2 linked regions of the Homo sapiens genome follow. The protein of the gene in region 1 interacts with the protein of each later gene in a pairwise test. Each region holds a gene or a part of one and is shown in the gene's direction. Other genes may lie near its edges.

Region 1 (3,653 bases):
CTAATTGTGCTGTAGTGCACTAGTCTACCCTCTTAACAATATCATGAGCCTCTTTAAGGAAGGGCCTGTTGTACCCTTTCTTGGATTTGTCTCCAAATTAAGCACAATTATAGGTTCATGGTAGGCAAGTGATACATTCATAGTTTCTAGTAGCTTTGTTTCCCTTTCTCCCCATTTGGTTATCTTTCTTTCTGCTCCTTTTTCTTTGTCATTCTGTTCTTTTCTTTTTAAAAAACTAGCTGACTCATCCTTCATTGTTCTCTGTCCTCCTTTATTCCTTCTTTCCTTTCCCCATCTTATTTGCTGGCTTTATGTCTAAGTATAAATAAATATGCTTATGATCTCACTAAGCTAAAATGCCAACCCTAATCGTTATTTGGAATATTTTTCTTCAGTCATATTTCTAGGTTTATGGAAAAACATGGGATATTTACAGAATATAGTTTAAATGTATGCTTTATATCTGCGTATAGGTGTTATAGATAAAAATAGTTTTTGACTGAAAAAAAGAGTAAAAAAAATCACCTTGCTAAAATTAAGGCAAATGTGATTATGATGAAGTTATTTGAGTTTATTTTATAGTTGCTAAGCCTCAAGTGATGGAAATATGTAAACTGTAAAAAGTTTAAGGTGCTAGATGTTTTCATGCTGAAATTATAGATTGTGCTGTTACAACTTTCACAACATTGTTTGCTTTAAGACTGCTTCGTATGCAAAATAATTTTTTAACCCAGCAATTGCAGAGTATTTAGATCATTTTCCAAGTATGGAGAAAATATTGAATTCAAAAGGATCACAAATAAAATGACAAATTTACCTTCAAATGATAACAATTTATCAGTAATTAAATGGCTAGGCTCGAAAGGGACCTAAGTTTTAGGTATTTCAGTTTAGCTACTGACTTTTTGAACTGTACATTTTGTAGTACTACCCTTTAAATGTAATCTTCTTTAATTTTAGCAAGATGAGTATCATATGGTTCATCTAGTATGTACTTCTCGGACTCCTCCCAGTTCTCCAAAATCCAGCACCAATAGAGAAAGTCATGAAGCATTGGCATCCAGCAGCAATTCTGTGAGTTGTTTTGGGAGGAGTAAACATTGAACTTTTCTTTTTTTTTCGTCGTCGTCTTATTTTTTGCCTCTAAAAACTAAATGAAAAACAGAACAATTGGAGCTTGTGAATTTTGAGATTGTGTTTTGAACTAAAGTTAGGCATTTTGTAAAGTTTACCATTTTGAAAGATCTAATACGCAGTGTTATCCCTTGAAGTCTATTCACCTTGAGTTATAATTTGCTGTATGGCAGGTCAGTAATAGATTTAATCTTCAAAGGTTTAATTACTGGAATACTCAGAAAACGGAATTATGTTACGGTTATATAATATAAACTCTTAGGCCAATGACGTTTCAGAAATATGCCAGGTATTTAAAATAGTATATTTTATTCAAGGTGGATTAAATTGTTTAAAATTTAAGTACCCTAAATCTTCTTGAAGTAGATGACTTGGTCAAGGATTTTGTTTTTTAAAAATGACTGGATTTGGGTGTACATTCCACCTGCTTGGGGAGGAAATACTTAATGTATTAATCTCTTTCAGACTTGGGTATTCATTCCTCCATCCTTATTTTTCCATCTGCCTAAAATTGTTTTGGAAATGTTTTGTAATAGTTGACCTTCTCAATTTAGACATTTTCTACAAATTTCAAAAACATTGTCCCCAATCCTTTTATGTTATTTTTGATTTCCCATAAAAGCTTTCTATGACACCTTTGCAGGTGAGAGGATTGGATGAGTGGAAGCTTGCTTTCAACTTCTTGAGCAGTCAGGGAACTTTTCTACTGCTAAGTATGCTTTCCTTGTCAAGACTCCAGCCAAAGCTTGAAAGAGAGCACAAGTGACAGGGGTGGGAGCTAGTTGAAAACTCTCTCAATAGATACTAGTTAACTGCTTCTTTAAGAAACTAGCTTCTCCAGTTGCTGTATTTAATTTGTATTCTCTTAATGGTAACTATTTCCTAGTACCAGCCATGGGAATTTAGCTTACATTAAACTAAATAAAATATGCCTTGTCAAAACACCCAAGGGTCTTTGTATGTTTCCTGCCTTGGCATGGAAAGGCACAGACATTGGCATTGGCACAGAGTTTTTTTTTGTAGTCGTCGGACACAGTTGCATTGCTTCAATTTTTGTTGGGAAAGAACCCTCTGACTTTGACTTGTCCAGTGGGTTGCTCAGCCATGATTTTGTGTCATTAGTGTGTATATTTGTTTTTTTCAGTGTTATGAAAGCCTGAAAAGTATCAAAGGAATGTTAAGTTGAATTCACCTTAATTTTTCATGGTTCAGAAATTTCAAGGGACTTGAAAATATTTTAAAGATCTAATCATAAAATAATTACCTAATAAGGTCAGAAATCATTAGTTCTAGAGAAATTAGGTTGTGCTGCCAAATGACTAGGCTTTTCTTCTAATAATTGTATTAATGAACACCGTATTATGATGGCCCATTTAATGAGAAATCTTGCTGAAAAAGAAACCTTTCCCAGTTTATGTTCCTAAGAATCCGGACTCCTTAGTAAGATATTTGATATCTATTGTGTGTGAAGTAACATTTTAAAAGTTTTTGTTAGTCTTGCAAAAGACTGGTGTGGACTGTTTTGCAAAAGACAGTTTTGGACCTTTCACATTGCAGGACTTAGCATGGGAGTCATGCAAAAAGACATCCTGTCAATAGGAAGGCAGTACGGGTAAAATACAATTTAACAAAATTGTTAAAGGAAGGATGTTAAAATAATACTGTACCTAGCTTTTTAAAGTGGAAGAACTATAATTTATGTAAAATGTAATTGTGTTTTAAATGTACATGAAACACTTGACAAACTATTTTCAAACAAATTGGGATGGTCTTCAGGGAGTTATATTGTTTATGGTTACTGAATCCATGAGCACGAGAATAAAAAGATTTGAGCATGAGAATAAAAAAATACTGATTAACATCTTGATTCTCGTAGTTCATTTTGTAAAAAAGCAATATTTGTTGGTGATTTCTATAAACTAATAGAATTCTAGAACTGAAAGGAATCTTGAAAATTTAGTCCAATCTCATTTTCTGTAGGAAAGTGGAAACTCTGAGAGGTTAAGTGAACCTTTAAGGTTATAACTCTTGTTAATGTCAGAGATAACACTAGATTTTAGATCTTTTGATTTCTAGGATTTCTAGCCTGTTTCTCATTACTTTAAATCAATATGTTAACAATAGCATGTTGTACAGTACTTGGCACATAGTAACTGTTTAAATGACTCAGTAATTAGTACCATTTATTGAACACTTTCAATAAATGTATGTGTTAGGCATCATGAAAGGAGCTTTGCATGCATTAATTTAATCATGTGAAAAGAGCTTTTTATGCATTAACTTAATCCTCAGAATTTAATATGCTGTTTTTGTATATTATTATTCTGCTCCTCGGCCATTTCTAGTTGAAAAAATGGAATATTTTAGTTTAATTAAGCAGTTTTGATAAGTTTTGACGTACTAAAATTAAAATATCTACTTATACTGGACACACGATGTAAAACAGTAAATTTCTGAAATGTTATTTTGCAGAGGGATTTCATGAATACGTTTTTAGTAATGTGCCTGTAATTTTATGA
Region 2 (3,653 bases), on another chromosome or scaffold:
ACTTTAGTGGCCTCCCTTTCTGTTTTGCCATAATCTGCCTCCTCCCCCACTCCCATACCCATCTACAAAGCAGCCTTGAAAATAACCACCCCTGTGGTTCAGTGTGGGTCATGATCTGTCAATCCAGGCTTAGTACATTTCCAAATGGAATTACCAGAAGGATGGGCATCAAACTGGGAAAATGATTTGGTGGCTTGCTAGCCGTGTTCCTTTTTCTCCCAAGGCATTCGTTCAGATGTGCAGTGTTGGCAGACCCAGGGGATGCCATTTACCTGGCCCACTGGTCGAGATTTGGTCATCCCAGGAACTTGGGCTTCAGAAAAGATGTTTCTGGGCTTTGGACCAGATTCTGGCTGGTCTGTGGTTTGCCCCTCCTGCCACACCCAGTGGCTTTCATTGGGCTTTTTTCCTCTAGTTATTGTCAGGAACAGTGGGGAATGGCAGGTATTGCATTTGGTGAACACACTGGATAACTGGAATCAGAGCCGTGTGACTGAGGGAAGAGGCCTTCACAGCTTCAATGCAGAATGGGATGATTATCTGCCCTGAAACGAAGGATGCTTCTTTGAGGGGAGTTGGGACCAATACTGGGAACAGCACCGCTCCTGGCTTCTCTGGCTTTGCTTCTCTCTGAAGTAATTTAGACTTCGTGAACCTTACATACTGGCTCCATCTGTATATTGGGAGAGCCTGTCCCTCTCAGCCTCACAGTAGTGAAGTTAGGAAGCATGGAGTCCACAGTGTTCTTTGAAAGAATCAAGGCACCAAGTCCATGCATTTACATTTCTCTCTTGAGATCAGTCCTTTTGTTAGCAGCCTGCAATTCTGACCACGGCAACCAAAAATTTCTGACCGTGGCAACCAAAAATCAAGCGCGAGGAAACCTGGGGGTTTATTTGGAGGTGGGAGAGGATGTCCCTTCTTCTGGTAGGACTATGTCTGGCTACATTGTCTTTCCATTTTTTTCTGATTGTCCCCTTGCCCCCCTCCCTTTTCTGGGGGCACAGAGGGCATGGCAATTTTGTTTCCTAGCTTTCCATATTCCTACTGCAGTGCTTTCTTCAGAATACTTGTTCAGATCGGATTCTTGGCTGTGAGGGCAACCAGCTGCTTTCCTGTTTCTTTAAAAGTGGATCCCACACTGCCGTGTCCTGCACAGTGAGTTCTGCATTGTAGAAACCATCTAGCAGTGGTGACTCAGGGAGTGGCCTCTGCTCGGTATGGGGCCTCTGCAACATGAGGTTATGGGGCTTCTACGCTGTGGGGTCAAAGGAGACATCATGATCCCTACTGGCAGAAAGAGCAGAGCCCCAGAGTGGGTTCCACTTACGGGGTCAGTGTCTTTTCTGAGATATTCCTCAGAACCACATTTAAATTCTTTTTCATATTGTTTGCATAATAATTGCCTTCTAGTGCCTACTTTATAGGACTGAGAGGATTTAAATGAGATAATCCATGTTATGGATTTAACACAGCCTCTGGCACAAGTCTAAATGTTGCATGTAAGTGTTAACTATTATACTGGAAAGAAGGCTCAGTTCCTTGATTTAGGTGTGGGAGAAAAATATATATATATTTTGAGATAGGGTCACACTCTGTCACCCAGGCTGGAGTGCAGTGGTGCAGTCACAGCTTGTATTAGCCTCCACCTCCTGGGATCAAGCGATCCTCCCACCTCAGCCTCTGAGGTACCTGGAACCATAGGTGTGTACCACCACACCCGGCTAATTTTTATTTTTTATTTTTTGGTAGAGAAGGGATCTCATTATGTTGCCCAGGCTGGTCTCAAACTCCTGGCCTCAAGTGATCCACCTGCCTCGCCTCCCTAAAGTGCTAGGTTTATGGTCGTGAGCCACTTAGCCTAGCCCTGAGAAAAATAATTTTTACAACAACTTAATTTCGCTCTCTCATTTTACCAAGGCATTAAAATGTTGTGCTCTTTCCTTGGGTGGGTTTCTAAATTAGAAGGGGCAGACATAGTCCCAGGGTGCTGGAGGAGGGATGCGGGCCTCTGAGGCATCTGCTGACAGGTTCACCATCCCATCTGGTCCCAGGTCTGAGGGAAGGAACAATAGTCTCTGGGCTGTTTTGGCTCTGACTGCCTGGATGGACTTGAAGCCATCTCTCTTTGGAATCCTGATGTCTCCCTGAGCATGGGGTGCAGGTTTGCTTAGGACTCAGACCCATGCACCTTGCGCTCAGTGACTTCTAGGACTCCTGGGAAACAGAGCTCTCAGCCCCTTTCTTAGTGTTTGCTGTGTGTGGGTATGTGTATGTTTATGTGTATGTGTATGTGTATGTGTATATGTATGTGTGTGTGTTTGGTGGGGGGCAGGACGGGAGTGACTGCCCTGGCTACAGTCATCCCAAACATGTTGTTCAAATTACTCCGAAGCCCTTGGGTTTTAGAAAAAGCAAAGCTGAAAAGCTGAAACTCTGGGCCGTGTTTCCCACCTCACTCATCCCGTGCTTGGGTCTGTAGGATAGGATGTCTCCATACAGCACAGGGGTGGTGGGCGACACCCACCTGGGGGCAGCAGTGAGAAGGCAGGGGCTCATCCTCCCCACAAAGTGGCTGGAGTTGATCTGTTATGGACGTGTTCGAAGTGTCCTTCTCTGCATCTTGTCTGCTTACTGAGTGCCATTAGCCAAAGTCTGTTAGGCCAAGTAGGAAGGAAGGGAGGGGCCCTGGGGCTAGGTAAGATCAATCATTGCAAGCACTTATTTAGTGCTCACCATGTACTCTGCGCTTTATCTATGTTTCATTTGAATCTTCCTAACCACCCAGTGGGATCGGCCCTTCTGGTGTGACTGATGGGGAGAGGGGAAGGCAGGTGGCCCACGGGCACACAGGTAGGCAGTCAGTGGCAGAGTGAAGATTGGAACCCAGATGTCTGCCTGTACCTGGACTCCAGCCTGTCTCGGGATAGGCCTGGCCTGGCCTGCCCTGTGTACACTGAGTGGGAGGCAGACAGATCTGAAGCCCATCTGCCTGCGTCCCTCTGTTTCTGGCTGAGTCCAGGTGGTGCTGGCACCGGTCACCCGCCCCAACGCTGGAGGGCACCCTGCCTCCCCTCTCTTTGCCCTGATTTCCCTCTGCTGTCTCTGAAAGTGGGTCTTCCCCCTCCCAAGTCCAGGCACCTGGCACAGCTGGAGCCCTGGGGTCCTTGGGGCAGCTGCGCTGGGACGTGGCCAGTGTCAGGAGCCGGTGTGTGTGACGGAGGCTGGGCTGCATTCTTTCTGGGTCAGTAGTTTGGCATTTACATCACCAGCCTTTGGCTGGATGCAATGCCTCCTGCCCAGACCACAATGGAGCCTTGTTTGATTTATCACCATCCAGCCACGCCCACACTCCACCTCCATCTCCACCTGGGGAGACCCCTTTGCAGGGGGTCTTGTGGAAATCAGAGACTGTTCGTAGGGGAAAGTCAGCTTCCTTTTCTGTGTTCCATCCTTCTTAAGGCCAGTGGCCGCTGTCATCCTGCCCTTGGCTTGGCTTTGCTGATTTCTACAATATCTTGCGGAGGTGCCCCCTTTCCTTAGAGGATGCATCTTTAACACTCTCAGAGAGGCTGGGGCAGGAGCTGTCCACACCAGGGCCTGCAGCAAGGGCCCGTCTTCCCCAAAGTGACTTGGGAGAGTCTTCCTGGCCC

What was found.
Region 2: the proteins of HERPUD2 (region 1) and SLC7A1 interact in binary tests that used the Homo sapiens proteins (3 or more experiments, as listed by UniProt).

What each region holds. Positions count from the first base shown.
Region 1 is NC_000007.14:35,667,636-35,671,288, reverse strand, and holds part of HERPUD2 (homocysteine-responsive endoplasmic reticulum-resident ubiquitin-like domain member 2 protein), read left to right. Parts: intron 1-960; coding exon 961-1,074; intron 1,075-3,653. UniProt on the Homo sapiens protein: Could be involved in the unfolded protein response (UPR) pathway.
Region 2 is NC_000013.11:29,589,036-29,592,688, reverse strand, and holds part of SLC7A1 (high affinity cationic amino acid transporter 1), read left to right. Parts: intron 1-3,653. UniProt on the Homo sapiens protein: High-affinity, low capacity permease involved in the transport of the cationic amino acids (arginine, lysine and ornithine) in non-hepatic tissues.